2 separate regions of the Homo sapiens genome follow, and region 2 is linked to region 1. The links come from fine-mapping of genetic effects on gene expression. A gene starts in region 1. The other region holds a variant in brackets. All regions are shown on one strand. Distances are from middle to middle.

Region 1 (16,854 bases):
GCTCCCCTTACAATGCCCCACCCATTTCCGCAGGGAACTACTGACAGTCTGATGTGCATCACTATCAGTTGGGAATAGGTCCATTTCGAGTTACCAACATCCCTGTACAGTGGCTCACATGTGCAGCCCAGTGGTAGTGAGTTCATGATTGATAGTGCCTGACCAATGACTGTAATTCTCTTAGCCTTTTCTTTAGGTGGTGGCCGCCGCCCTGGCCATCACACAGGTTTTCAGGCAGGCAAAAGGAGGGCTGTATTCTGAAGTTCTATCTTTTTATTAGGGAAGAGAAGCTTCTCTAGTAACACATTTCCCTTTACATTTCACTGGCCAGAACTGGGTCGCATTCCCCCAACTCTGCAGATCCACCACTGGCCGAAGGGAGTAAGATTGCCTTGGTTGTTCAACCAATCAGGATTCACTTCTCAAGCTAAGGTAGATTCTTTCCCTCTCCTCAAGGCATCAGAAGATTTCTACTCTATATCTGAAAAGAAAAAAACTGAGGCTCTGTAAGGAAAGAACATTGGTTGTTGAAAGAGTAGTTGGGGTTGGGTATGGTGGTTCACGCCTGTAATCCCAGCACTTTGGGAGGCTGAGGTGGGTGGATCACTTGAGGTCAGGAGTTAGAGACCAGCCTGGCCAACATGGTGAAACCCTTTCTCTACTAAAAATACAAAAATTAGCCAGGCGTGGTGGCACACGCCTCTAGTCCCAGCTCCTTGGGGGGCTGAGGCAGGAGAATCACTTGAACCTGGCGGTATAGGTTGCAGTAAGCAGAGATCTTGCCACTGCACTCCAGCCTGGGTGACAGAGGGAGACACCATCTCAAAAAAAAAACGAATAGTTGGGTAGGCAACAAAGTGACTGCCACAGGGAATGCACACACACGCACATGATATACAATAGTGTATCCAACTATTTCCCCTAGGTGGTTTCTAGAAGGTACTTATGACACATAACCCAGATTTTACTAAGTTTAATGTTGAAAAAGCACCCCATAAAGTGTATATTGATCACACATCTGAATATCTCTAAACCATAAAATGGAGTTAACAGTACCTACACCTCACGGCTGTGCCAACTGAATGAGTTAATATGTGTGCTTAGAACAATGCCTGGCACATGGTAAGGGCTACATGAGAGTTAGCTGTTATTATTAATATCAAGCTGGCAGGTAACAAATATGTTGAATGAGAGTCAAGACACGCCCCCCCCAACATCAGTAGGTTCATATGACAGATATATCTAATAAGATGAAAATGTACACATTACATTTATTATGTAATAAGTAAGCTACTAAATTTGGACCCTAAAAGAACAATAGTCCAAATATAGGATGAGGAGATGTGACTTAAGAGCTATACATGTGTGAGGGCAGTGGCTAGTTTGTGACTCTGAACACTGGAAGAGATGGGTACTAATGAATCTTTTCAGCATGAACTCACTGCTGGAAATGGCTACTTACTGGAGGCCATGGGTAGAAGCCACTTCTACCACTTCTGGTAGACGCCAGAAGTGGAACAGTTCTATTCTCCATCTAGGAAGCTTTGCATCTAGAGTTTAAAGGTTTGAAGAAAAAAAGGGATAAGCAGAGTCCAAGGGAAATTACTACTTAATGGCTAGAAGAGGTATGTGTGAGCACGTCTATAAAACATCCCTAACTACCTGTAACACAGATTGCACACTGTTCCCTGCTAACGACTGGCTTAATACATCAATCAATAAGACTGGAAATCGTTGTTTTCTATGGACGCTGAATCTGAGCTTGTCGAAATGATTTTCCCAAAACACAGTCTACTTCAAGGATTTCCGCAGCACTAACTCCTTTTGGAATATCCCTTTGAGAACATAATTAGAAATATATATCACTTTCATGTAGTTTGGGGCAAGCAATTTCCTTACCTTCATCACATTATAAACGAAGTCCAAGACTGATTTTTCATTGTGTTTGAAATGGATTTTCTAGAATTATGTCTAATTGCCAGATATCATAGAGATTAATAACACTCAAAAGTCTTAAGGACAAGTAAGCTAAAACTGAGTTCCCAGAGAGTCTGATTCCTTTAAGACTGTGAAGACACTGTTTAGCCAGGTTGAGAAGCATCTTCCCATCATCCCCAACTCTCCGGGCTACAGTGAACAACCATTTATTTAACACTTCACATGTTCCAGACCCAGAGTGCTCAGAACCACAGTGAGCTACAAAAATGCAGAAGAAACATCCTTTCCCCCAGAAGCTTCCAACCCAGTTAACTATCTTCAAGTGATTAAAATAAGACAGCTGACTATTAAGTTAGAAATATTACATGCTATAGGGAAATAGAGCAGGAAAGGAATGAGAAGAAATTCCTTTTAACTGCAGGATCTGGGCAAGCCTTTAGTTCAGGCAGGATCTGAACAGAGTAGAGAGGCAGGTGGATGTGAAGAAGGCATCCCTTAGTGGAGGGATGAAAAATGGAGGGATGTATTCACCAACAACGAAGCGTCTGTGACTTCAGTGTGTGCGTGTGTGTGTGTGTGTGTGTGTGTGGCAGGTGGAGGCTGCTCAGAATAGTGCAGGGGGGAGGGAGAAAAACAGTAAGAGATGAGGAAATGTATTTAGCACCTATTACATGCCAGGAGTGTTGTACGTTATTTCAATCACACTTTATAACAATATTGAACAGTAATATTCCTTTTTTACAGATGAAGAAATTGGCCCAGAGAGATTCAGAAACTCCTCTAAGATCATTTAGCTAGTCAATGGACTAAATAGTCAATAAATATTCAAATCAGGTCTTTTTTCTTTGCCATACCATGTTTGCTTAAAGCCCAGCTAAGGATTCTGGACTACCCTACAGGCAATAGGTGGTGAAGGAGGGCAGAGGCAGTAGCATCAGCAGGTATCTCTGTTCACATAGGGCCCACCGTGTGTCCAGACTGGGCTGACTCTTTTCCCTCTGGAAATAAGAGGCAAATGAGACACCCATCCCTGCCCTCGAAGAACCTCGTGTGCTTTTGTGGGAAAATAAAAACATTAACGGACACATGTATTAAAATGTAAGGACACACGTATTATAATGTAAGTACAATGACAACAATTTGGGGAGAGTGCTATGGAAACACCCTTCCAAGGAAAGTGTCCTAGAGAGGTCATCCAGGCTGTCCTGGAAGAAGTATAAAGTTGAAGAAGGTGGGAAAGGATATTTTAGGCAGAGGAAAAGATCGCTCTGAAAACAAAGATAGGAACTGTCATGGTCCACACACCTCGAGGTAATAGGAAGGACGGGGAATAAGGCTGGAAGGCTTGGGAATGCCTTGCTGAGGAGCTGAAGCCCTGGGAAGCCCCTGAAGACTTTGATCAGGGCAGTGATACGGTTACATGCTAATGCTAGGAAAATCCAGGAGTGCCTTGGGGAAGGAAGACTGGAGGCAGTTAGAGCAGCTGGTCAGCAGAGGTGAGGGGAGAGAGCCAGAGCCCGTGTGAGGACAGCAGTCACAGGCATGGAGAAGAGTTGGGTTTGAGAGATACCTAGGAGGCAAACACATCAGGTTCTGGAGGCTCAGATTTTAAAAGCTTATCACTAATATACCAAATCTCTTAAAAAAAAAAAAAGAAGAAGAAGAAGAAGAAGAAAAAAAAAAGGTCTGGCTAGCAATGTGTCCTCATCTACCCTAAGAAACTAAGTGAACACTGGGTCCTGTCTATAAGCATTAGTCCTGAAGTCAGCAGTGCCTAAATGCAAAGAACAAACACAGATGCTAAGATGTGAGTGGGCAGGCCAGTTCACCTATGAACAAGGGTAAGAAGGAAACAGAACCAGTCCTGGAGAGTACAAACACTGTGCCCTCTTCCTTAATTTGCACACCTGATTCAAGTATTTTACTTACCCTTACAGATTTCTATAACTCCTGAAGACTGATATTTTTATTCGTTTTATTTATTTATTTTTGAGACAGGGTCTCATTCTGTCGCCCAGGCTGGAATGCAGGGGCGTGATTTTGGCTCACCACAACCTCTATCTCTCGGGTATGAGCGATTCTCCTGCCTCAGCCTCCCAAGTAGCTGGGACTACAGGCATGTGTCACCACGCCCAGCTAATTTTTTTGTATTTTTAGTAGAGACGGGGTTTCGCCATGTTGGCCAGACTTGTCTCAATCTTCTGGCCTCAAGTGATCCACCCACCTTGGCCTCCCAAAGAGCTGGGATTACAGGTGTGAGCCACTGCACCCGGCTTATTCCTGTTTTACAGCTGAAAAAATGACAAGTTGATTAGTTACAAGTTTTTCTGATAGTTACACAGGTGATAAATGGCAGAACCAGGACCTGAACCCAAATTTGTATGACTCCACGTTCTGTTCTTCCCATTTACCAGTTTTGCAGCTAAGAACCTTTCTAATTCCCTTGGCAGCTGGTCTACCTTCCAAGGCCCAGAACTCCAAAACAATTTCCACTATCAACCCCCAAGTTCAATGGGAACTTGGAAGAAATGGCTTATAAAAAACAAGTAAAAATTAAAAAGTAGGACCTAATCTTAATCAAGTGCCTAATGTTAATCAACAGCCATCCTCAGCAGCAGTTTCAGTGAACTAATTTGTTGATTTTCCAAGGCTAAATACAGCCCTTTTATACTGAGCGCTCTGAGTTTATTCAAAATATTTACAGATCTATCACCTGATTTATTTTATCTACTCCTGTTTCACACAGATATTAACACTAAAAAAAAAGCCAAACACTGGGATGGGCACTTCTTGTTGTGTTCAACTTTCAAGTCACAGTTGAAATGTCCCTTTCTCATGAAGGCCTTTACCTTGCGAGGCTAGGCTAGATTCTCTGTCCCCAAACTCTCACTTCTTTGTAGGACTTCTATAAATGAATATTAGGTATGGGCTGGGCGCGGTGGCTCATGCCTGTAATCCTAGCACTTTGGGAGGCCGAGGCAGGTTGATCACTTGAGGTCAGGAGTTCCAGACCGGCCTGGCCAACATGGTGAAACCCCATCTCTACTAAAAATACAAAAAAATTAGCCGAGTGTGGTGGCGTATGACTGTAGTTCCAGCTACTCAGCAGGCTGAGGCAGGAGAATCGCTTGAACCCGGGAGGCAGAGGTTGCAGTGAGCTGAGATTGTGCCACAGCACTCCAGCCTAGGCGACAGAGAGAGACTCTGTCTCAAAAGAAAAAGAAATTTTTTAGATATGTATTTTTGAACTATCTGTTCACAGCCGAAGTCCCTCTGGCCTGTAGACTCTGTGAAGCCAGGCTTGCTTGTCTTGTTCTTGTTCACAGCTATATCTATCCTTTGGGCCTTGCACTGCAAGTGCGAGGTAAATGGTGACTGAACAGCTGGTCTCACCTAACTCCCTGTGGGGCGTCACTCCTTTCTGACAAACAGAAAAAAATTCCTATCAGAAAGGTTACTGCCCAGTTTCACAGAGAGGACAAGTTAACTCCCAAATCACATAAGCTCTTCCCACTCCACCACGCTCACCTGCCTCACACACACAAATACCTGAATCGACTTCCTGTATTTTCCACACTGCAATAAATGTGCTTCTGTGAAAACCAGTGTGGCTATGAAAGTTATCGTGGATTGGCCGGGCACGGTGGCTCACGCCTGTAATTCCAGCACTTTGGGAGGCCGAGGCGGGTGGATCATGAGGTCAGGAGATCGAGACCACCCTGGCTAACACGGTGAAACCCCGTCTCTGCTAAAAATACAAAAAATTAGCCAAGTGCAGTGGCGGGCTCCTGTAGTCCCAGCTACTCGGAAGGCTGAGGCAGGAGAATGGCGTGAACCCGGGAGGTGGAGCTTGCTGTGAGCTGAGATCGCGCCACTGCACTCTAGCCTGGGCGACAGAGCAAAACTCTGTCTCAGAAAAAAAAAAAAAAAAAAAAAAAAGGACGTTACCATGGATTAAAGAATTTCTGGCCAGGCTCACGCCTGTAATCCCAGCACTCTAGGAGGCTGATACGAGCAGATCCCTCGAGCTCAGGAGTTCAAGACCAGCCTGGGCAATTTGGCAAAACCCTGTCTCTACAAAAAATAGCTGGGTGTGATGATGCATGCCTGTAGTCCAAACTACTTGGAGGGCTGAGGAGGGAGGATCTCTTGAGCTGGGGAGGTTGACGCTACAGTGAACTGAGATCCTGCCACTGCACTCCAGCCTGGGCAATGAGTGAGACCCTGTCTCAAAAAAAAAAAAAAAAATTCCATTCTGTTTAATTGTGCATTCCATATTTGTTGGGATGGGTGGGCAGTAGGAGCAACTTCAGTACAATTAAGTTGATTTAGCTTCTTCTTTGGAGGGACGTTATACTAGCAAAGCAGAGAAAAACAGAGGCTAATCTATTACTAAAGATTTCAACTTTCTTTATATTTATGGGCAATAATCAGGTTCAATCATTGTAATAAACCACTTGGCCTAAGAAAAAGAATTTAATTAAGGTCTTATAAAAGGACATAAAATACTACATAAAGGGTGCCAGCTTTATAGACGTGAGATTTCACCTATTAACATATAGTTAGGAGGCTGGGTGCGGTGGATGGTGCCTGTAATCCCAGCACTTTGGGAGGCCAAGGCCGGTGGATCACTTGACATCAGGAGTTCAAGACCAGCCTGGCCAACATGATGAAAGCCTGTCTCTACTAAAAATAAAAACGAAATAGCAGGGCGTGGTGGTGCGTGCCTGTAATCCCAGCTACTTGGGAGGCTGAGGCAGGAGAATTGCTTGAACCCGGGAGGCGGAGGTTGCAGTGAACCAAGATTGTGCCACTGTACTCCAGCCTGGGTGGCAGAGTGAGATTTCATCTCAAAAAAACAACAAAAAAACCCCATATAAACATATATAGTATATAGTTAGGGGTCGGGTACAATGGCTTATGCCTGTAATCCCAGCACTTTGGGAGGCCAAGGCAGGTGGATTGCTTGAGCTTAGGAGTTTGAGACCAGCCTGGGCAACATGGTGAAACCCCGTCTCTACTAAAAATAAGAAAATTATCAGGGCATGGTGGTATGCACCTATAATCCTAGCTACTCAGGAGGCTGAGTCAGGAGAATCACTTGAGCCCAGAAGACAGAGGTTGCAGCAAGCAGAGATCACACCACTGCATTCCAGCATGGGTGACACAGTGAGACCCTGTCTAAAAAAAAAAAAACAAACAAACACAGGGTATTTCACCATAATTTAAACTCCAAATCTAATATATGCATTGATTTGGTGGGAAAGTATCCCTTTAATAGCTCAGGTTTCAAAGACTCCACAACCAAGAAGGTATCTATAGTTTAGACAGTTAAGAACATGTACATACCTAGTTTTTCATTTAACTTGGATCCAAACTAGGGGTAACTAATTTGGATGCATGCACAAAAATTTTCATTCTGATTTTTGTAAACATTTCATTGAAAACTGGGCGTGGATGTGAATTGGAACAGGATCACACTACTGAAACTTACATAGGTTTTGCAGTCTCACAAAAGGCAGGAAAGTCAAGCTCTCGCTTTTCACCTCAATCACTACCTTTTTACCACACCGCCATGTGACGTTGAGCACATCTCCTAGGTAGTTTCCTTGTCTGCAAAATGAAATGTGGACTAGATGCCCCATCTGGCTCTAACAGTCTCAATACTGTAACTGATGCAGAGCACCTATTTCCTTCCTACTTGAAGGAACTGCAAAAGAACTAAACATTAGAACCACAAAGCAATTTCATGAGGCAGCCAAATTAGTTCTGATAAGGAAAATTATTTAGCATGAGTTCATGACTTGAATCAATCCCAATCTGTTAGAGATATAGCTGAATCAGATTTAATAGCCTCCCTGTAATCAATAAAGGAGAACACACTGTCTGGACTAGGCAAGGAAGGAGAGGTATCAGCATCTCTTAATAGCCTTTATTCTTCTGCTTACTCTCACTCCTCACCCTCCTTCCTTGAACCCAAGTTTGAGTATTTAATGAAAGTTTCAGAAAATGAATGAATGGGAAATGAGGGAGGTGAGGAGATGGCAAAGGAGTTGTCAGCTGACAGTCCACATCTTTGTCCTGCTGCTGTGCTGAGAAGGTAGTCAAAGGAATATTACTTGTAGAATATTTGTCACTGCATCTCCTCAGCCATTAGTGAGCTCTGATTTCTTGGAGATTCTAGAAAGCTCTGCACAACTGTTGTGATGTATCTAATATTATTTCTTCTATAGTTGCTGATGTTCAATTTTTTTTTTTTGAGATGGAGTTTTGCTCTTGTTCCCCAGGCTGGAGTGCAATGGCATGATCTCGGCTCACCGCAGTGAGAATCGCTTGAGCCCAGAAGACGGAGGTTGTAGTGACTAAGAAATGGTCAAGCAACATCACACAGAATTCCCCTCTGCCATGGTACTTTAAACTTCACGTTTTTGCATGAATCAAAAAGCAAGTGATCGCCAGGCGCGGTGGCTCACTCCTGTAATCCCAGCATTTTGGGAGGCCGAGGTGGGTGGATCATTTGAGGTCAGGAGTTCAAGACCAGCCTGGCCACCCATGGCAATACCCCATCTCTAATAAAAATACAAAAATTAGCCAGGTGTGGTGGTGCGGGCCTATGGTCCCAGCTACTCGGGAGACTGAGGCAGGAGAATCGCTTGAACCCGGGAGGCGGAGGTTGCAATGAGCCAAGATTGCGCCACCGCACTCCAGTCTGGGTGACAGAGCGAGGCTCCATCTCAAAAAAAAAAAAAAAAAAAAAAAAAGCAAGCTTCACGTACAAGGCATCACTTCATGCACAAGGCACTGAGCTGACAAAGCCATGGCCTTTGCTCAGATAGGGTTGAGAGACAATAATCAATTATTGCCAAAATAAAAGGACTCTAGGAATTCAGAGGGAATCCCAATGCATTTTGTACAAACAGAACAGAATAAAAGTAGGGAGGCTAGGTGCACTCCAGCACTTTGGGAGGCCAAGGCAGGAGACCAGACTGGGCAACAGAGCCCTTAAAACCTCATATCCAAAAAAAAAATTTTTTAATTAGCTGGGCATGTGGTGGGGCACCTGTAGTCCTTAGCTCTTTGGGAGGCTGAGATGGGAGGACTGCTTGAATCCAGAAGTTCAAGGCTGCAGTAAGCTATGATTGTGCCACTGCACTCTAGCCTGGGAGACAAAGCTAGACCCTGCCTCAGAAAAACAAAAACAAAAAAACCCACAGCAGTTAAATTTATCCTCACTTTTATTACTATTTTTTAGAGACAGAGTGTCACTCTGTCACCCAGCCTGGAGTGCAGTGGCGCGATCTCGGCTCGTTGCAACCTCCGCCTCCTGGTTTCCATTAACTCACCTGCCTCAGTCTCCTAAGTAGCTGGGTCTACAGGCGTGCACCACCACGCCCAGCTTATTTTTGTATTTTCAGTAGAGACGGGGTTTCACCATGTTGGCCAGGCTAGTCTGGAACTCCTGACCTCAGGTGATCCACCTACCTCAGCCTCCCAAAGTGCTGGGATTATGGGTGTGAGCCACCACGCCCAGCCTATCCTCACTTTTAGAATCCCATGATTCTGAAACTGCAATTTGACCTGTCCTTTTAAAATAATTTTTACCTTTAGCAAGTGCAAGCAAGCGAGAGCCACACGACACATTATCTTTGCATGTCTAGTCATAAGATACTCCACCGTTAAACAGTAGAAAACAAGAATATCTCCCACTAGAAAAACTTAAGGCCTAACAGGTCACCTCCTATGGGGCAAGTTTAAAAAGCTATTTTCTGGAGCAGGTACTAGGATGGCCTTCAGGAGCATTTTAGTGCTTTCTGACCTACTACCTTTCCTCAAAGCTTTCAATCCTTTTGGGCTTTCTCCACTTGAATGTGAACACCTACAGATCTACAGCTCAGAAACCAGGATGCTTAATGGGTAATTCCCTCATTTCTCTTGCTCTCACAATTGGTGTTTATGGGGAAGTATCAACTACTTGCAGTGCCATTTCCCCATCAATTACTAGAGAGTGGGGAAAGTGAAATTTAAAAAGCATTAAGACATGTAAAAGTTCTCCCACAACTGGTTTCCATTCATGAAATATTTATGCAGAGTTTATAAGCTATAAAGCCAGAGATGACTTAATTCAACAGATTTGACTTTTCCAAACTGAGTGGGTGCAGTACTCCAAGGGGAATTATTCAGGTTTCAAAGCTCAGATTCAAAGAGAAAACGATCTAATTTGTCACTCCTTACACTAATATTCTCAAAAGTCAAGTCCAATGCGATTTAGCAATAAGAAGGGACTAGGATTTATAAAGTTGCCTTTTAATGAGAATGTATAGTCTACTTGTTTTAACAAGTTGAGCCTAAGATTAATGTATTGCGTACAGTTCAGAAAATCATGGGCCTCAACTGCATGAACACTATTACAAAACAGTAAATGTTGATAATATTTAAGTTGAACAAATTCACAGAGGCGTTAAATCGGCCAAACGAGTACAACAAAGACACACCTTTCCAACTCTTCAATTTGTCATAGTTTCCTTAAAAATCAGGAAATCTTTGTTTTGCTTTAAGGCAAATTGTCAGGTCGACCAAAAGGACAGATAAGAGCAGAAACACTTCGCTGCAATGTAACTCATTCAGGAAGGTTTAACTTGCCGCTAATCCGTGCCACAAAAAAAAATCTAGGCTCTGTTGCAGGTACAATGGAGGACACGGCTGAAAAAATTTGGAATTTTAAATGAGACAAATGCAAAACCTGGTGGGCGTAAAAAGGAGCACCTATGAAAGTGACAAATAGGGGGAAAGGGTGGGCAAGGGAAACAATGGCTGACTGGAGAGCAAAGAAGGGGAAGCTCAGGAGAAAATTTTAGAAAGCCGCCAGGACCCTGTAGTTCTAAGATCTACGGGGAAACAGGCACCCAACGGCTGCGTCTCAGGTTTCCGCGGGTCACTAAAGAATAACGGACATCCTCCCAACGGTGGCCCTGGGGCTCCGCGGGCGCTTCCGCCGAGCTCGCGCCGACCCCGCGCTCGGCCCCGCACCCCGCCGGGCGCTCGCGGCGAGATACCGGACGCTGCCCGCGTCGCCCGATTTTGTCCGTTCGGTCCTCCACACTCACCCCGCGGCCATCGCTCGCCCGAAGCCAGGCGACAAGAACAAACACCTCCCGACGCGAAAAAGGAAGCACAGGCGATTCTCGTCAAAGCAGACTTTATTGGGGCGACAGGGCCGCCCCGCACGCGCCAGCCGCTCCCCGCGCGGCCCCCGGGCCGCCCACCCGCCTCAACCCCGCTCCCGGCCGGCCCCTCCCTCCCTTCTCCTCAGGCTCCCGCCCCCGTGGTGCCCGGGGCCGCGCGGACCGCTCACCGGCTCCCAAGGCAGCGGCTGTAGCGGCGACGCCCCGTTCCCGAGTGCGGCCCCGGCCCGAGGCGGCGGGTTTTGTGGCTGTTGCACCGCGAAGGGCGGCAGCCGCGCGACACCGGGAAGCGGGAGGCGGTGGCGGCGGCGGCGGCGCGCTGACGTCACGCGCCGCGGGCCAGCCAGGGCGCGTGCGAGCCGCCCCGCCCCCGGTCCCATCGGCCCCAATCCGGGAGGAGCCCGGCGAGTGGGCGGGGCCGCGGAGGCCAGCGGACAGATCGATTGGCCGAGAGGAGAATCGAGAGGGCGAACGGGCGAGTGGCAGCGAGGCGGGGCGGGCTGAGGCCAGCGCGGAAGTCTCGCGAGGCCGGGCCCGAGCAGAGTGTGGCGGCGGCGGCGAGATCTGGGCTCGGGTTGAGGAGTTGGTATTTGTGTGGAAGGAGGCGGAGGCGCAGGAGGAAGGGGGAAGCGGAGCGCCGGCCCGGAGGGCGGGAGGAGGCGCGGCCAGGGCGGGCGGTTGCGGCGAGGCGAGGCGAGGCGGGGAGCCGAGACGAGCAGCGGCCGAGCGAGCGCGGGCGCGGGCGCACCGAGGCGAGGGAGGCGGGGAAGCCCCGCCGCCGCCGCGGCGCCCGCCCCTTCCCCCGCCGCCCGCCCCCTCTCCCCCCGCCCGCTCGCCGCCTTCCTCCCTCTGCCTTCCTTCCCCACGGCCGGCCGCCTCCTCGCCCGCCCGCCCGCAGCCGAGGAGCCGAGGCCGCCGCGGCCGTGGCGGCGGAGCCCTCAGCCATGGCCTCGGGCGACACCCTCTACATCGCCACGGACGGCTCGGAGATGCCGGCCGAGATCGTGGAGCTGCACGAGATCGAGGTGGAGACCATCCCGGTGGAGACCATCGAGACCACAGTGGTGGGCGAGGAGGAGGAGGAGGACGACGACGACGAGGACGGCGGCGGTGGCGACCACGGCGGCGGGGGCGGCCACGGGCACGCCGGCCACCACCACCACCACCATCACCACCACCACCACCCGCCCATGATCGCTCTGCAGCCGCTGGTCACCGACGACCCGACCCAGGTGCACCACCACCAGGAGGTGATCCTGGTGCAGACGCGCGAGGAGGTGGTGGGCGGCGACGACTCGGACGGGCTGCGCGCCGAGGACGGCTTCGAGGATCAGATTCTCATCCCGGTGCCCGCGCCGGCCGGCGGCGACGACGACTACATTGAACAAACGCTGGTCACCGTGGCGGCGGCCGGCAAGAGCGGCGGCGGCGGCTCGTCGTCGTCGGGAGGCGGCCGCGTCAAGAAGGGCGGCGGCAAGAAGAGCGGCAAGAAGAGTTACCTCAGCGGCGGGGCCGGCGCGGCGGGCGGCGGCGGCGCCGACCCGGGCAACAAGAAGTGGGAGCAGAAGCAGGTGCAGATCAAGACCCTGGAGGGCGAGTTCTCGGTCACCATGTGGTCCTCAGGTGAGCGCCGGCCGCGCGCCCCGGCCCCGGGATGTTTTTGTTTTGAAGGGAAGCCATGTTTTATGTGTGTGATGGGCGCCGCCATCTTCTTCGCCAGGGCAAGTATGGCGGCCCCAAAAGATGGCGGGCCGTGCGGCGGCGGGGGCGCGGCGGCGGCGGCGGGCGGCGGGCCGCGAAGATGGCGGCAGGCCGCGGGGGGGAGGGGCCGGCGCCGCCCGGCTAGGCCGCAATGGCGTAGTTTCTCCGAGAGGGGGAAGCGCCGCGCGGGGCGGAGACGGCCGGGGGAGGGGCCGGCGCGCTCGCTCCCCGACGCCCTCGCTCCCCGCGCCCGCATCAACGGGCGCGCCCGCCGGCCCGTTGTGGCGGCAGCTGCGCGCCCCCGGCCCGGGCGGGACGCGGGAGGTCGTTGGCGGGGCTGCGCCGCGGCCTCGCGGGCCAGGGATTGCTGCCTCCGGGACGCGCGCCCCCGCCCCCGCCCGGCGCTGCCGTTACCCCATCGGCCGCTGGAGGGCGCCGCGGGCGCTTGCCCCGCCCGCCCCCAACTTCCCCGGACTCCCAACTGCTCCCCGGTGGCACCTTCCAGAAGGAGGGGGCTTGGCACTCGTGGGCGCCCTCCGGCCTCCTTGCTCCCCGCCCACCCAGCGCCGGGCTGGACCCTGCCCCGGCGGTCACGCTCGCCCAAGTCGTCGTTTGCTGCGGGGCGGGACTTGGGGCTGCACGTAGGGCTCGCGTGTGCGGGCTCCGAGCGTCAGTCGGAGCCTGTCACCGCCGTTGCCAGCGAATTCCTGGCCTTTTCGCCTTCCTGCGGTACCTAGTGGAAAGGGCCTGTGAATGTTAGCGAATAATTCTTAGTCACTTACGTTTTGGGAAAGCTTTTTTTTTTTCCCTCAAGTATTTAGCTCTTCTGAATAGGTTGGGTTAGTTTACTCAACTGTGGACATTTGCCAGTAAATAAAATCGGGTAGTTTAATTTTAAGCCTTTATGGTTTTTACTTTGTAGAAAGGTATCTATTTTCCCCATGAAAAGAACGATAATAGAAAGCGGGTTTTTTTGAGTTTTGTTTTACTGTTTTAATACTACTTTTAACGAAGGCCTGAAAACCATCTAGAGCAAAAGGATCTTATCTGCCTGTGTAAAATCTGTTTTTACTTCAAAGGCAATTATTAATTCAATGCTGGTTTTTTAGGTCAGTATCCTATTAGTATATTCATATGCTACCTAGCTAAATTGCTGAGATACTAAATAGACTGAGAATAATCCTGCCATCGTAGTTAATCTAATGCCTGTGATGATTACGTTTAGTACTCCATATAAGCGGTGGAACCTCTTCCCTATAAGTACTTTAAAGCTTCATAAATTCTCAGAACTGAATGGAGACTCAAAATATGGTGACCTTTGAGTATTAAAAGATCGTTAAAATTCGGAGGAATGAATGAAACAGAAATGAAAAGGCTGGACTGAAAAAGCTAGTTTGTATCTGGTGAAAGCCTCAAGATGAGACAACTACAGCTGGGTGGATCTGTGATTGAAAGAGGCCTGAGCAAAGGGATCTAGGAGCTGTCAAAATCTAATAGGAAGGTGCTAACAGGCGCTGTCCTGCATCCAGGGTGCCTTGTAGAATTCATAGCAGTTTGAGTTTAGCAGAAACTATGTTTAAATGAAACATGAATACTTTAGTACTTAATGGTTATCAAAAGATAATTTCCATGTATTTTGGTAGCTCAAGAGATTACATACTGATCATGTTGGAACTAAAAGTCATGGTTTTGGCCGGGCGCGGTGGCTCACGCCTGTAATCCCAGCAGTTTGGGAGGCTGAGGCCGGTGGATCACTTGAAGTCTGGAGTTCGAGACCAGCTGGCCATCATAGTGAAACCCCATCTCTACTAAAAATATAAAAATTAGCCAGGCGTGATGGCGGGAGCCCGTAATCCCAGCTACTCGGGAGGCTGAGGCAGGAGAATCGCTTGAACCCAGGAGGCAGAGGTTAACAGTGAGCCGAGATTGCACCACTACACTCCAGCCTGGGTGACAGAGCGAGACTCTGTCTCAAAAGGGGGGGGGGGGCATTTTTTTTTGTTAATACCAATGAGTAAGGGATGGGGGTTTTAGTTATTGATGAATTTGCAGAATTCAGAATACGATTTGAAATAAGATATTTAGGTAAAGATACATTAACCACAAAAGTAAATTTACTTTTTCTCATAGTGTGTGGAATTAGAGGAATTTAGAAAACCGACATATTTTTACATGATCTGCATTTTATCTTAACAAATTGCTGGTCCACTTTTCCACATCCAGAGAAGCTGGTAGTGTACGGCTTTGCTTGCTGAAGTGGTATGTATGGAGTCAGCCAGTTAGGGGAGAAAGTCTGAGGGGCTTGACTGATGGAAGTCAATTTACAATTAAGTGAGCATTTACAAGTGTGCAAGTGGCTGTTTTGTTTTGTTTTTTGTTTTTTTTTTTTTTTTTTTTTTTTTTTTGAGATGGAGTCTCGCTCTGTCGCCCAGGCTGGTGTGCAGTGGCATGATCTCGGCTCACGGCAAGCTCCGCCTCCCGAGTTTACGCCATTCTCCTGCCTCACCCTCCCGAGTAGCTGGGACTACAGGCGCCCACCACCACGCCCGGCTAATTTTTTGTGTTTTTAGTAGAGACAGGGTTTCACCATGTTAGCCAGGATGGTCTTGATCTCCTAACCTCGTGATCCGCCTGCCTCGGCCTCCCAAAGTGCTGGGATTACAGGTGTGAGCCACCGCGCCCAGCCAAGTGGCTGCTTTTAAGGTGGCACAGTTTGGGGTTGTTTTCACGTCCGTTTCTTTTCTTCTCTTTTCTTTTTTTAATTTGAGACAGAGTCTTGCTCTGTTGCCCAGGCTGGAGTGCAGTGTCACGATCTTGGCTCACTGCAACCTTCACCTCCCGGATTCAAGGGATTCTCATGTCTCAGCCTCCCAAGTAGCTGGGATTGCAGGCATCCACCACCACCCCTGGCTATAATGTCCATTTCTTTAAAGCGCTGGTTGTCTAGCTAGTGTGGTAGAGTACGCTGTGCATAAGGGTAGTTATAAATATTTGATGGCAGTAACATAGGATGGCCTGTTTCTCGGACATGTGTTTTGTGGTAAACTATCCCCCTTACTTTTCCTTGTGATTTGGAATTATTACTAAAGAGAAGCTAAAGAGCTTATGGATAACTCTGCATTTCCCAAGCTGAAATTCTGAAGGTGATTTCATCTTCAGAACTGAAATGACGTGATATACTCAGTATAATTCCATAACAAGTGGAGAAATGAAAGTGGGTTAATTGTTGGGTAAATCTGTATGTATGTGTACATATGGGTTGAGCATGGTGGGCAGCATTACTGCTTTCGTGTACTTGATCTCATTTGATCCTAGGCATGAAGGTTTTAACTACACTTTAGTTTCACTAAAATAGCCCCTTAGTTTGGAATGAACTGTGAAGTAACAGTTTTGCATAAGCCCCAAGCTGAGTTACTTGAAGTCCTTATAAAAATAGTTGTACATACAGGGTATTCCCCGAGGGTCTAGTTACTTCTTAGACCCTCTTGGTTTAAAAAGCAAAAAGATCAGGCTGGGTGCAGTGGCTCACACCTGTAGTCCCAGAACTTTGGGAGGCCAAGGCAGGAGGATCGCTTAAGCCCAGGAGTTCGAGATGAACCTTGGCAATATAGTGAGACCCCGTCTCTGCAAAAAAACAAAAAACCCCACAAAAATTAGCCAGTCATGGTAGCACATGCCTGTAGTCACTCTCAGCTACTTGGTAGATTGAGGTGGGAGGATCTCCTGAGCCTGGGAAATCGAGGCTGCAAGTCAGCGGTGATTACACCACTGTACTCCAGCCTAGGTGACAGTGAGACACTGTCAAAAAAAAAAAAAAAAATTGGCCGGGCGCGGTGGCTGACGCCTGTAATCCCAGCACTTTGGGAGGCCGAGGCGGGTGGGTCACGAGCTCAGGAGATCGAGACCATCCTGCCTAACACGGTAAAACCCTGTCTCTACTAAAAATACAAAAAGAAATTAGCCGGGCGCTGTGGCGGGTGCCTGTAGTGCCAGCTACTCAGGAGGCTGAGGCAGGAGAATGGCGTGAACACGG
Region 2 (14,847 bases), 49 kb after region 1:
GGGCTCTCCTTGGGTTTTCGGGGTTGTCCAACCTGCCTGCTGATTCTAGACTATATCCACAAAGTTCACCCAGGGCAGGAATGAAAAGTGTTTGGTAAAATAAATAGGCTGTTCTCTAGCAAAGCAGTGAGCTCCTGACTCCCAGGGTCTGGTCAGAGTTGCTGAGTGGGTTGATCTCTGGTCTTTCCTTGACAGTGCACGTTCGAAGGCTGTGGGAAACGCTTTTCACTGGACTTCAATTTGCGCACACATGTGCGAATCCATACCGGAGACAGGCCCTATGTGTGCCCCTTCGATGGTTGTAATAAGAAGTTTGCTCAGTCAACTAACCTGAAATCTCACATCTTAACACATGCTAAGGCCAAAAACAACCAGTGAAAAGAAGAGAGAAGACCCTTCTCGACCACGGGAAGCATCTTCCAGAAGTGTGATTGGGAATAAATATGCCTCTCCTTTGTATATTATTTCTAGGAAGAATTTTAAAAATGAATCCTACACACCTAAGGGACATGTTTTGATAAAGTAGTAAAAATTAAAAAAAAAAAACTTTACTAAGATGACATTGCTAAGATGCTCTATCTTGCTCTGTAATCTCGTTTCAAAAACACAGTGTTTTTGTAAAGTGTGGTCCCAACAGGAGGACAATTCATGAACTTCGCATCAAAAGACAATTCTTTATACAACAGTGCTAAAAATGGGACTTCTTTTCACATTCTTATAAATATGAAGCTCACCTGTTGCTTACAATTTTTTTAATTTTGTATTTTCCAAGTGTGCATATTGTACACTTTTTTGGGGATATGCTTAGTAATGCTACGTGTGATTTTTCTGGAGGTTGATAACTTTGCTTGCAGTAGATTTTCTTTAAAAGAATGGGCAGTTACATGCATACTTCAAAAGTATTTTCCTGTAAAAAAAAAAAAGTTATATAGGTTTTGTTTGCTATCTTAATTTTGGTTGTATTCTTTGATGTTAACACATTTTGTATAATTGTATCGTATAGCTGTATTGAATCATGTAGTATCAAATATTAGATGTGATTTAATAGTGTTAATCAATTTAAACCCATTTTAGTCACTTTTTTTTTCCAAAAAAATACTGCCAGATGCTGATGTTCAGTGTAATTTCTTTGCCTGTTCAGTTACAGAAAGTGGTGCTCAGTTGTAGAATGTATTGTACCTTTTAACACCTGATGTGTACATCCCATGTAACAGAAAGGGCAACAATAAAATAGCAATCCTAAAGCAAGAATATGGCAGAACAAGATCTGTAAGCACAGTCTTATTTTCTTTTGTTGTCCAGAATACTTATAATTCTTGAGCCTCCCAGAAATTGGAAGCTAAATAAAGCAACTCAAGTTTCCTTTATTTTGCACTCAATTACAGTGATTATTGATGAAAGCGATGCATGGATATTTTAATACTTCCTACATGTCCTGACTTCTGAAAGAGAGTAGGTAACAGGCATCCCGAGTTCAGGAACTACCTCAGAACACCCCAGGCCAGGTTGGTCATAGGCTGTGATTTTAGCCCCCGGCAAGTGTGAGTGAAGCATCTGTACCACCGCGCAGGCTGAGCGCCTGCGCAGGGTAAGGTGCCACCTGGCAGTGGGGCACACAGAGGGAAGACCAGGCCTGTCCATCAGCCGGCTGCCTTCAGAGGCAGCTCCAGCAGGACCTTGGCTTGTCTGACAGGAAATGCTTGTGGTCGTTGGTTATTTGGTTTGAGAGCCCTTGTTCCTCCATCTAGTGGAGTCCTTATTAAATGCTAGCAATGTGGCAATTGAGTGCCAGTAGCTTAATTTCATGTTTCTAAATGGACACTGGGTGCAAATCGGCAAGGTGATTAGATTATTAGAAAATTCTGCTCAATGAGTACCTCTCACATTGTAACCTCTTAAATGTACGATTATAATGTTGGATCTTAGGTCAAATAACAGACTTGAGAATACTTTATAAACTGCCATGATACAGCAAAATCTCATTTATTCAAAGTGCAAACATACTGTGTGTCTTTCTGTTTTGTGTATGCTTGACTGCAAGATAAATGACAAACTAGCTAATATCCGAGATTTATTTACAAATGGCCAGGGACCCCATCAGGTGAAACACATAGCCCATTGTCTTAGAGCTTCTCCATCGGTCCTGTACAGGAGGATTGGTGACCTACTAACAGTGACCCTGTGGCTCTGTGGAATTTTGAAGTGCCTTTTGTGAATCATGAATGAAACATTTAACTTGAGACCCTTTAAAAAATTCATCCAGAATCTGTTACCCCTTGGGTAGTTTGATGGAACTGAGTTAAGCAGAAGACCCCAGCTGTTTTCTGGGTAAGCCAGGCTTTGCTGTATCTGGCAGTCAGGAGAGAGGTCAGCCCATGGTGGAGGTCTTCAGTGCCGAGGGCTCGGATGAGAACGTGTAGTTCTTTGACTTGGACCTGGGCAGCGTCTTCTATGGATGCCTGCCTTGTGAGCACCCACACCTTCCCTCCCCACTGTCGGGTTGAGTAGCCCCAGCGTGGCTGTGTTAGGAGTCCTTTGCCCAACATTGTGCTGCACTGGAGCCTGGCCCTGGCACTGTCCTCAGGACCCTGCCCAAGGGCCCACCGCAGAGCACACCTATGCTATGGGGAGCCCTGCTGGCAGCCCCGAGAGCCATGCCATGGCCTGCAGGAGCCAGGCTCCTGTGTGGATGAAGTCCCTCTTCCTCTGTGCCTTGATCCCTTGGGGGTGCCTTTGGTCATCTCTTCTGTCCTTTCCTGTCTCTGAAATAGTCATCACTCCCCTTGACTCTCTCTGTTCACGTCTTCTCAGTCTGCAGAGTTAACTTCTGTAAGGAGTTTAATCTGGGGTTCCAAGAAAACAAGTTCCTTGTTAACATAGCACTGACTTTGCAACAATAGAAAACTAACAAATGAGCAACAATATAAAGAGTAGAGGTAGTTCTCATTGGGTGTAACTTCAACCCATTCTGCTTGTGGTTAGAATTTATAATTTTGCTAACGATGTAATTTACTAAGGTTTGAAATGGTATTCTAACAGTGAGTCCATTGTCTTGAGGATTAATCTGATTTATAAGTAATACTGATAGACATATTTTCGTACATCTGAGCAGAAATAAATGCATGTTTCTAGCATATGTAATATAAAAACTCCAGAGGATAAGTTTACACTTAACAAGATGTTGTTTTCTATTTTTGAATTTCTTATTATTTCCCCCTTTTTGGTAGTGGAGTTGAGAGGGGGAGCATACTATTTGTATAAAGAACTGTCACCCCAGAGTGACATTTATTTTCCAAGATGACCCTGAACTCATGCTGTTGGTTTCATATGGTGTTTGTGTGCTTTGCCTAGATTCAAGGCCTGAGGATTTGAGGAAAATCGGGATTTTTTTTTTCCTATTTGGTTTTCATGTAAAAGTTCTAAATGTCACTTATTTTGCTAAATAAGACCCTTTCACAGGATAGTGTGCGCAATACCTGTCCGTGTTTCCAAGCAGAGTTCAAGTTCATGTCTTCACAAGTAGATGAGAGTCACTTCCAGTCGGGGGAAGCCCGCCTGAGCAGTGTTTTGAGAGTGCGTACATTGGAGGACTGCCCCACGTCCGTTTGCACTCTGCCTTGCAAAACTTACTGTGGAGACGTGTCCCAGACTGGTCTCAGACCAGAGTTTGTGGCACAGGAAAACCTGGCCCCCTAAAAAGAAGTTTTGGAATTGGAAGCCTGATAATTTCGGGAGGCTGAGGCAGGAGAACGGCGTGAACCCGGGAGGCGGAGCTTGCAGTGAGCCGAGATCGCACCACTGCACTCCAGCCTGGGTGACAGAGCAAGACTCCGTCTCCCAAAAAAAAAAAAAAAAAAAAAAAAAAGGAAACCTGACAATTCTACCCACCTCCCCCCACCCCCGACTATAGGCAAAGAGAGTTGATCACTTCCAGGGTCTCTGACTTCTGTGACCTGGAAATCAGCCTGGCTTGGGAAATTCATGTTGTTGATCTTTAATTATTTAATTATTCTTTAATAATCCTTCTATTTTCTTGACATCTGACCCCCAGCAAGAGTAAGGATCCCAGAGGTCAAAACAGTGGTGAGAGCCAAGCTGCTCACAGACACCCACTTGATGCCACAGCCATGCCATGAGGCTTCCTCCCAGCTGCTCTGCTGGCTTGCTGAAGCCAGCTCTGAGTCACAGGGTTGCCTTGGACCCTCGGCTGTAGGGGGCACCTGTCTGGCTCCGGGCCCTTTGTCCTGGATACACTGACAGTAATGTGAGCGCAGCACTTCAGAGTTCAGGCCCAGCAGGTCCTGGCAAGTGCATTCCACCCGAACTTTTAACCCAAGCGGTGGGGAAGGAAGCCAAAACTCCAAGCTGCACTTTCTTGGGGTTCTGGCCATGCACTTCTTAGCCTTCTCTCTGACTTTACAGGACAAAAGGTACCCCACGCCTTCAGAATCATGCTTACCTGCACGGCAGCATCTGACTGGATGGCTGGCTAGGTCTCATCCACCCCAAATTACTGACCCTTGATTTATGTTGTTACTGCTCAGGTTATGCTCAGATGCCCTGGTTGCCTGAAGATGGTTTAAGTGCAGGCCCTTCAGACAAGTCACGTCAGGCAAGAGAGGGCTGGCCTCT[G/A]ACCCACAAGAGGGCAGATTTGTGGCCAAGAGGCTTCCTGGCATCCACCCCCAGGCCCAAGGGATCAGTGTGGTGCCAGAGAGGATCTTTAAGCTGGGACTGTACTGAGGCTTGATGGGAAGTATGGGCAGCATGTACTTGACACGTTATCACCCAGTCCCCTTGTAAAATCTGGAATGGAGCGTTTAAGCTGAGCGTTAGCATCAGGTCAGCAGGCAAAGCAAACCTCCCACAAACTGGGTGCCGTAAGGTGGGAGGTGACACATGGAGAGCTTCGTCCTGGCCGAGCAGGCACCCAGCCCCATGTCCCCCGCCAGCATTCTGGATGTCAGAGGAGGGTGCGTGTGATGGCGTCACATTCATCTGAAGCACACTGATTGATTTTCCACAAGGTGGCAAGTTTGATCAAATTGACCGCTTTTCATGAGACACCCAGATGCTGTAAAAAAAAAAAACAGCACTGGGATGTGTTGAGGAGGGGGCAGTTTGCTGTGCTCTGTTCTGTCTGCTGCTCTCTCTGGGGGCCGCACAATGTCCGCACACATCACGGAGGGGAGAAAGGCATCAGTACCAAACGGAACAACCTCTTTTTTCTACATTGTCCATACCCGGACATGTGAGGCTCTATTATCAACAGGTGGTGAGAAAAATTATGTTTTTATTCGCTTTCTGGTAACTTCTGTAGGCCCTGGCTCAAGGACTTAGCATTTCGTCTCATGTACATCTTTTTCTTAAGTGTTCTTTGCCATTTCTGGAATTGTCCTTGGTTTTTCCTTAGCTCATAGGTCATAGATGCAGAAATATAGTATTTAAGGCATCCGCATCCAGCATCAGATGGCTTTGCATCCAGAAAAACATTGATAACTCAGTTTGAAGCACCAAGCATGTGTAATATGGCTCTATACAATATAATAAATGCATAATGTTAAGCTTTTTAATGCCTGTGGTTCTTGTTTGTTCCTCAGTCCTCTAAGCCACTTCTTTAGTGTTTCACTGCACATGAAACCAGGCCATGAGCCCTTCCTGGTCTAAGAGTTGCCTAAACTGCCCGGGGCAGTTCTTGCGGCTTGCTTTCTCACACACAGGACTGGGAACTCCCAGGATTTGGTCTCACACCAGCAAGAAATGCTTCTGTAACCTTTCAGCTCCAAGGTGGGCTCAGGAGCAAGAGGGCGTTTTAAAGAGAGCCTCACCCACTGTTCAGAAAGCACAGCCCAGTGAAATGCCCACGCAGCCGGACCTATGAGCCCATGTCAGCCCTGGAAGCTCCGGAGCTAACTGGGATGGACTCGGAAGAACTTGACCAAATACACTGAGAGCTACTTAGGATTTAGCCAAAAGCAAAATGCAGAGCAGAGCTTCCTCCCTCTGGTTGGGGCCTTGGTGTCTGATGTTCTGCAGAGCAAGGTTCAGAGTGAGGCGTGAAGTTCATTATTACTTGAATACATGTGACTTTCCCTTTTTGCTAGTGACAGAAGGGGCTGCTGACAGAATGCTACTGAGGTGGCAAGTCGCAGGCCTGTGCAAGCCCAGAACTGCTGAGTGAAGGCCCTAAGTAGGGCTGAGCTGAGCAAGACGGTGGAAAACCTGTAGATTTTACATGGGAAGGAACTAAAGCTTTGGAATTGCTTTTTTTTTTTTTTTTTTTAGATGGAGTATTGCTGTGTCTCCCAGGCTGGAGTGCAGTGGCGCGCAATCTCAGCTCACTGCAACCTCTGCCTCCCGGGTTCAAGCGGTTCTCCTGCCTCAGCTTCCTGAATAGCAGGAGGTTGTGTGTGCCACCATGCCCGGCTAATTTTGTATTTTTAGTAGAGATGGGGGTTTCACTATGTTGGCCAGGCTGGTGTTAAACTTCTGACCTCACAATCCACCCGCCTCGGCCTCCCAAAGTGCTGGGATTTCAGGCGTGAACCACCGTGCCTGGCCTGGAATTGCTTTCTTTAGAAACCCCTAGATACAGATGAAACCAGTATCTCTCCTTTATACTTGCCGGTGTCTCTGCCTGGCTATAATTTTTTATTTTATTTATTTATTTATTTTTTGGTAAGAGACAGGGTCTTGCTATCACCTAGGCCGGAGTGCAGTGGCACGACCATAGCTCACTGCTGCCTTGAATTCCTGGACTCCAGTGGTCCTCCTGCCTTGGCCTCCCGAGTAGCTACGATTACCGTGAGCCACCATGCGCAGCCCATAACATTTGTTGAGAACACATATGTACCCAGTGGCCTCCTCCAAACCACCCTTTGATGAATTAGCTAGCAATATCACCATGCTGTAAGAGAGGAACAGGCTCAGATTTATTTGCAAAGTCCAGGCAGCCAGAATTCAAAGCCCAAGCCTGCCTGGCTTCCAAGGTACTCTGCTTGCCACTGGCTCCTTAGCTTGAATTCTCCTCCAGTCCCCTTTCAAAAAAGCCCTGGCCCTTGTTTATGGAGCAGTGCATCGGCCTCCCTGGTGTGCGGCCCTTTCTGTTCTGGCGCAGTGGTGCCTCCTGGCCTTGGAAGGGTCCTCAGGGCTCCCCGACTGCCCGCCATTGTGACCGTTCCCCTCGGTCCTTGCTGACCTCCCCACACGGCCTTTCTGCTAACAGGGTCTCAGCACGTGATTTGAACTGCAGCGGTTCCCTACTTCCTACCGAAAAATCCAGTCCCGCCGACCCTCAGAGCCCAGTCCTGGCTTTATCTCATTTTTCAGCCTTTCCTAATGGATCACCTCTTGTCCTGTCCCTCCCCTCCCTCTTGGAGTTTTCGTTTCCAAAGCTTACCTCTCCACCTCCAGGGGCCCTGATTCGATCAATGCAATTATGTGCCAGGCCCTGTTTTAGGCAGGAATGGCATTGCCCTACTGGCACTGGCATGACATCTGGAGGAAGGAGGATAAGGCTGTGATAAATAGGGGCTAGGGGCCGGACGCGGTGGCTCATGCCTGTAATCCCAGCACTTCTGGAGGCCGAGGCGGGCAGATCACCTGAGGTCGGGAGTTTGAGACGAGCCTGACCAAAATGGAGAAACCTCCTCCCTACTAAAAATACAAAATTAGCCGGGCGTGGTGGCGCATGCCTCTAATCCCACCTACTCGGGAGGCTGAGGCAGGAGAATCGCTTGGACCTGGGAGGTGGAGGTTGCTGTGAGCCAAGATCGCGCCACTGCACTCTAGCCTGGCGACAGAGCGAGACTCCGTCTAAAAAAGCGGGGGGGGGCGGGGTAGCTAGGGAGGGAGAGGAGGCAAGGAGGCAGGACGGGGTCTGAGCACGCCCCTCAGGTGTTTGCATGGCTTCTTCTTGGCCTGCCACGTGCGTCTGTACCGGACCCTAGGAATATCCCGGGAGCTGGTGGCCAGCCCTAGCCCCTGCCCGCCTGGCCTTTGGCCAGCACTTAGCGCGGGCAGCCCTGCCCGCCCCCAGACCCTTCTGGGGACTTGGGCCGCGCCTTTGTCCCAGCCCTTCCCTGCCACCCTGCAGTGCTCCAGGGCCTGTCCCCCACGCTGCTCTGGCGGGCGGCCCCGGGGGCTTCTAGACCTGCGCCTGGGCCCCCACCCGCAGGGTGCGCCGCCGCCGCCGGCCGCAGGAGGGCACTGTGCCAGCGGGCCCCGGGGCTGGGCCGCGTCCGCTGTGGGGAGGGGCTGCGCGTGCGCAGCGCGGAGCGGCCCGGACCTCGCGGGGACCCGAGGCGCGGTGGGGGCTGTCCAGAATCCCTGAGTGTGGGGTCCCCGCGAGCCGCCGCCGCTTACGAGCGTCCCCCGCGCGGAGTGAGCCCAGGGCCACGGGGGCGCGGAGATTCAGAGCCCGAGAAACGCGGAAGGAGGCTGCGTGCACCCCACCTGCCCGAGGCCTCGGGCGGAGGAGACTCCCGCCGCCAGGGCCACAGGGACACGGGGCAGGGCGGTGCGGCGGCGACGCCCGAGGAGGGAGGGGCCACATACCAGGGGGCCCCAGCTAAGCAAGGCCCTGGGACGCCCCCCCTTCCCCCCGGTGGAGCAGCGCCCCCTGGAGGGCGGGGTGGGAGAGGCTGCGGTCCTGGGATTAGGGGGCGGGCCCGGGAAGCGGGGAGACAGGGCCTTGGGGTGCCGGCCCAAAGGGACGTCCTGGAGCCCTCCAAGCTGGGGATGCTTTTCCTCTCCCCACGGAGAGCTCCACCACGGGCGTGGCGGGGGCTCCTACCATCACCCTGCCTGTAGGTTCTGGAGCCACTCCGGCCGCCCCAGCCCCTCTCCAGCCCATCACCGCTTCACCCTCTGCCCCCAAGCGTGTTCTGGCCTCACAGTGTACATTCCGTCTTCCCTGGCCCGTCTCTGTATTGCCTGGCAAAACCCAACCTGGCCCTGTACTCAGCAGCCTCTGCTCTCACCCATTCATTCACTCATTCATTCAGCATGCTGACTTTGCACCCCTGGCCCTCATGGAGCTAAGGTAGAGGTTGGGGAGATAAACAAGAAACCGGCCAGTACTGTCACAACACCAAACAGAGCCCACCATGTTCCCCTGTGTCTGCTCTTTGTCCTGTGTCCTCACCATCCCCAAGGATATTCAAGCCAGATTTGAACTTACTCATTCACCCAAACTTTGTGGGACATCATTACAGCTGGCGTGGTGTTGGCTGGCCTGGCAGAGCATGGCTGGGGGGGGGGGTGTTGCTTGCAGAGGGGCGCTGGTGGGGGCGTCTGGCATTCCCCACGATCCTGGGGGAGGTCAAGTCGGAGGAGAGCAAGGCTGAGCAAGGAGCCCCTGGGGCACAGGCCCATTCCCCTCAGCCTCTGCCCTATCTCTGCTGTGCCCTGATCAAGGTGGACACTGGCCCCACCGCCTTTCCCAGTTCCCTGGGAAGTGGCCTCTGGACCCAGCAATGCATCTGCCTCTCCGTGGGTAGGTGGGTACCATGAGGTCAGGGGTGTGTAAGAAGCAGCAAGGAAGCTGAGACCCAGGAGCATGGGACCTGGACCCTTGCCCTGGCCAGGCCCCCTCTGGTTCTTGCATTGCCGCTCCAGGGTTGCCTGGCCCCAGCTGATCCTGCTGAAGGGCAAAGGATGGGCTGACTGGCTCCTGGCGCTGGCTTCAGCACCAACTAGCTGTGTGGCCTTGGACAGGGACCCTCCCCAACTGGTACCCTGCACTGCAAAATGGGGGTGCCAGCACCGACCTTGTATGGCTGTTGGGAGAATGAAGGGATGGGTGTGCATAGGGCTGAGCCATCCCTACAGTCACAAGAACCCACCCAGCACAAGGAGGGCTGGTGAAGGTCCCAGGTCAGTGTGGCCTCACGGGTGCTTTTTATAAGAAATGACTCACTAAAGGCCCAGGCCAATGATGAGAAGGGCACAAGGAGGCTTATGCTCCATTCACTCCATGCACCTGATGTCCAAAGGGATCAAAAGAAAAGGGAAGGGGAAGTCTGTGTGTGAAGCCAGTGTGGGCTCTGAGATTGGAAAAACAGTTTATCAGATTTGGACTCCCCAAACTGCCACTGCTTTGCCTGAACTCTGCACCAAGGACCTGAGCACCAGCCCTCACGGGGCCTGCCCCCTTCTCTCTGCCCTTCCACGCTTTAAGCCTCCCTCCCCCTTTCCCACCCCAGAGACAAATGCCTTGGCAGTGCCGTTTCATAGCCCTTTCCCTTAAGGGGTCAAGGAAGGAGCCATAAACTCCAGATCCCTGCGGAGTTCAGACTCTAGCTCCTGCCACATAGTTTCGCCTCCCTTGACTGCACCCTCAACACCTCCAAGGGCTTCTTCTGCCGTTTATTCCCCAGTGGTCTCGCCCACCTGCCACTGGAGCACCACCCCCCCCCTCCGAATTCCTGGCCTCAAGAGGTCCTCTGGCTTGGACTCCCTCATGGCCTCTGCCCCCCACCCTGGCCTGCCTCTTATTGCCTCCTAACCTCCTGTGGGGTCTTCAAAACATAAATTGGATCCTGTCACTCCCCTGGGTAAAACCTGCTCACAGCTGCTGATGCAACGAAATAAAGTCAGCTCTGCATGGCGGCTGGTGGTGCATTTGGCTGCAAATGACAGGAATAGTGTGCTGAATGAGAGGAGTGTGACCAGCCTTCCAAGGCCAGGCTGGCTCAGTGGCTCACGGCCGTGGTCTCTCCCACTGCACCTCCAGGCATCCTATTCCCTTTTCAGTGGGAAGCAGAGAGCTAGGTCAGAGACCAGAGGTCAAGGGGTGTGCCACAGTGTGTTTTACCTGTTTCACAGCTTTCTCAGAAGCTGTCAGACATATGGCCAGCTCCGGCCGCAAGACAGTCTGGGGGCCAGGCGCGGTGGCTCATGCCTGTAATCTCAGCATTTTGGGAGGCTGAGGCGGCGGATCACCTGAGGTCAGGAGTTTGAGACCATCCTGGCCAACGTGGTGAAACCCCATCTCTACTAAAAACACAAAAAATTAGCAGGGCATGGTTGCTGCGCCTATAATCCCAGCTTCTCAGGAGGCTGAGGCAGGAGAATCACTTGAACCTGGGAGGTGGAAGTTGCAGTGAGCCAAGATTGTGCCATTGCACTCCAGCCTGGGTGAAAAGAGTGAAACTCTATCTCAAAAAAAAAAAAAAAAAAAAAAAAGACAGTTTGGGAAGCTGTTTTGATTAGACATACTGAAGCCCAGATCAAGTTGAGATTTCAAGAGCAGTTGGCACTTAGGAGGATCTGCCACTGTCCCCAAGGCACTGCCATGTGACCCGCCCTGGTGGCCCTCTTGAACGTCTGGCCCTGCTGTCCTCCAGGCCCTGCCTCACCCCCCTCCCCAGCCCCCACCCACCCCTTCCACCTCGGGACCTTGGCTACATCTGCCCTTCCAGCTACAGCCTAGTGGTATCTGTGGCCCCGTCCGCTGCTGCTCTTCCTCTAGGACTCTGCTCAGACGTGTCCCCCAGTTACTCTCCCAAACCTGACTGGAAAAGCAAATCAAGCAAAGTTTATCCAATGAAATATGCCATGCAGCTGTCAGCAGGAAGGAGGACCATTCAAACACACCAATACAGAGCCCTGTTGAAGGTTGGATTGTGGCCCCAGAAAAATCCGTTCAAGTCCTAACTCCAGGCAACTGAATTTGGCCTGATTTGGAACCTGGTCTCTGCAGATGTTTTTAGTTAAGATGAGGTCATACTACAGTAGGGTGGGCCCTTAATCCCATATGACTGGTGCCCTTATACAAAGAGAAGACATGGAGACACAGACACACAGGAGAAGGCGGCAAGAGATGGTGGCAGCGATCGGAGCGATGCTCTTGTGAGCCTAGGGAGCCAAGGATTGCCAGCTGCCCCCAGAAGCTTGGAAGAAGCAGGGAACAGTTCGTCCCTCAGAGCCCCCAGAAGGAACCAACCCTGCCTGCAGCTGGAGTGTGGCCTTCAGAACTCTCAGAGGACACTTGGCTATTGTTTAGCCACAGTGTGTGGTGTTTTGTTACGGCAGCCCTAGGAGAAGGATGCAATCTCCAGGATCACTGTCAAGGGAAGACAGCAAAGAACAGAACAGTCAGGACCTCGGCCACACTTTGTAGGGGGTGCAGATGTCCCTCCGCTGCTCCATGCTGGCACTTGCCCAAGATGTGTTGGATGCCCTCTGGGAACTGGAGACTGTCCTCGACTCAGGAGGAGAGGCTGGCCCCTGGGAGGTGGAAGGAGGTTTTCCTCTTCACTGCACAAGCCTGGATTCTGGTAGTATTTTTAGTTTTTAGCACTTCATATATCACTTATTCCAAATCAATTGAAATCAGAGGCCGGGCGCAGTGGCTCACACCTGTAATCCCAGCACTTTGGGAGGCTGAGGCGGGTGGATCACTTGAGGTCAGGAGTTTGAGACCAGCCTGGTCAAGATGGTGAAACCCTGTCTCTAATAAAAATAGAAACATTTGCCAGGTGTGGTGGTGCACGCCTGTAATCCCAGTTACTTGGAGGCTGAGGCAGAAGAATCACTTGAACCCGGGAGGTAGAGGTTGCAGTGAGCTGAAAGAGCACCACTGCACTCCAGCCTGGGCAACAGAGCAAGACTCAAAAAAAAAAAAAAAAAAAAGTTCAAATCAGGGAGAAAAGAAAATGTAAAATAAATTCATTAAAAACAACAACTCTACTCCCTGCCTGGCAGATGTGTTGGTCATGTGAGGCCGCTGAACTGGGAAGTGGGAGGGAGCTAGAAGCCCCCCGCCCCTTCACCTTGCTCCTTGCCGCACCACTCCTCACTTCTGAAGGGCTGGCCTGTCTGTGTGCTGTCCCCAGAGGGCAGGCAGCCGCAGGGTTCGTGGAGAAGCCCCAGGGTGAGCAGGGCTCAAATTAGTTCCTGACAAGGGTCACGTTGGGGCCTTTCTAGAGAGTGCAGATGTGTGGAGAGATCCAGGGTGATGGGGACCACAGCCACAGGCCACACTCAAGCTGCCCTGAGAGATTCAGCCACCCAGGCCTAGAGAGGCAAAGGGGCTGCCAAAGCTGGACATGGAGGAGCTAGGGAAGGGGCCCCTCTCTGTGCCCATGGCCAGGGTGTTTCCCCCATCCCTGGGAGCTTCCCCTGGTTTATTTCAGAGTAAAGAGAAGCGAGAGAGGCCAGGAGACCCCAGGGGTCAACAGCCAGCTTCCTCCCCGCCTCCTGCCTCCCTGTAAAGCCCAACTTCCCAGGCTAGCACTAGGGTTAAACAGGCACAGGAACTGGGGCCCCTCCCCGACTCCCCCTTGTCAGTGGGCAGAGCTTCTTGGCTCAGCACTTGGGAGGGAAAGCCTCCAGGGCTGGTGGCTGCAGAGGCTCAGGATGCCAAGGGCTGACTCCAGGAGGCTGAACAGAACTGCAGGTGAGGTGGGCAGTGAGACCCCCACACCACACCTTTGGCAAAGCTCCAGGATGCCCTCTTCCAGGAAGCCCTCTCTGACCTCCTAGTTTGGGTTAAGTACAGTTGTGCCCAAGTTGCCCGGGTGGCTGAAATGGTCAGCTCCACTCAGACCTCCCCTCTTCCAGGAAGCTGTTTTTGGGACACACCCTGCCCCTGCTGCCCCGCCCGCCAGTGCCCCTCACCACAGGCCTCTCTCTCTCATTGCTGGGATGATGATAGCAGAGGGGCATCTGCTGAATGGCCAGGCTGCACCAGCGTGTTCACGCCCTTCATTAGCTTGCCTTGCAGATGAGAAAACAGGCTCTCAGATGTATCCGCAACTGCCCAGGTCACATGGCCAAGGCTGCTGTCAGGGTCCAAGGGCACACGCACCCCTGAGCTGGCCCCTTCGACTCCAGGGCAAGGGTGCTGAATGAAGCCCTTTCCTCCACCATATGCAAAGGCAGCCTCGCCACTTAAAAAACAAAGAACACTTTATTCCCTTGACAGTTTCTGTACAGCGACACCAGGCTGTGCAAAGCCCAGTGTCGTCTTCACTGAGCACATTCCCCAGGACGCCTGGTGCAGCCCTCCTCTGCCCCAGGCCCCAACTAGCCACCCCTGTGCCCACTAGCAGGCCCTGTGCCTTCACAGGGATGAAGCCCTGGCACTGAGAATGCCTGGGAGGCACCGTTTGCTGGGGAGCAGAGGGACTGACCTTTGGCTTCTTTGTGGCTGGAGGTGTTCCAGGCCTGGTGAGGGGGTCCCATACTGTTCTCTGCTGAGCCCTCTGCACACTTTGGGGGATCCTGGCTGGCGGTGGTAGGTGGGCCGGAGACTCAGTTGTCCGTCAGCTGGCCATGTCCCCATTTTATGGACAGGCAGCCTGAGGCCCAGAGGCGGAAGGATTTCTCCTTGCCACAGCTGCATCACACTTGAACTGTCCAGACCTCCACCGCTGGCCTGTTTGCTCCCCACCCTAGTCCCGCAGGCTGATATGGTGCCTCCAGCAGACTCCATGGCTTCCCGGAGGGTGCAGGGTCCCCAGTTCACCCTCCAGCAGGAGTGGCAGCAGCTGGGGTACCCCTAGCAGTGGCATGTGGAGAAGCTGGGGTATGCAGAGGATCCAGTTCTGTGACACCAGGAGGCACACCAAGTTTTCCTCTGTCCCTAACACAGACCAGAGGGGTGGCCCACCACCCCCCCGGGTGGAGGATGTGTGGAGTTAGAGGTCCCTGGGTGGCCCCTTGGTTGGCCATCAGAGACCCCCGGGAGCCAGCCTGCAGGGCAGGAGCACAATGACGTGGCCAGGATCCCAGAAAGGGGCTGGAGTGTCTGCCTCAGTTTCCAGGATAACGGTGCAATGGCCTCAGCCAGGCCAGGTGCTGGCTGCTGCTGGGAATAATCTCTGAGCTTCGTGACTCTACAGT

What was found. PIP is the estimated chance that this variant, and not a neighbour inherited with it, causes the effect.
Region 2: its variant is fine-mapped to the expression of YY1 in whole blood (TOPMed, PIP 0.93).

Annotation. Positions count from the first base shown.
Region 1 is chr14:100,227,181-100,244,034 of GRCh38, forward strand. YY1 (YY1 transcription factor) reads left to right here and starts at 11,964. Exons shown (of 5, transcript NM_003403.5): 1 at 11,964-12,743. The coding sequence starts at 12,065. YY1-DT (YY1 divergent transcript) reads right to left here and starts at 11,441. Exons shown (of 2, transcript NR_189150.1): 1 at 11,291-11,441. RefSeq lists enhancers at 5,145-5,645, 5,646-6,146, 11,026-11,878, 12,716-12,875 and silencers at 11,116-11,715, 11,776-11,855, 12,006-12,075, 12,566-12,615, 12,886-13,565.
Region 2 is chr14:100,277,223-100,292,069 of GRCh38, forward strand. It overlaps YY1 (YY1 transcription factor), which reads left to right. Exons shown (of 5, transcript NM_003403.5): 5 at 196-5,566. The coding sequence ends at 378. MIR6764 (microRNA 6764) reads left to right here and starts at 135; the gene lies at 135-195. It overlaps SLC25A29 (solute carrier family 25 member 29), which reads right to left. Exons shown (of 4, transcript NM_001039355.3): 4 at 13,894-14,847. RefSeq lists an enhancer at 1,111-2,091 and silencers at 7,957-8,066, 8,097-8,856. The variant G/A (reference allele first, on the strand shown) is at 4,633.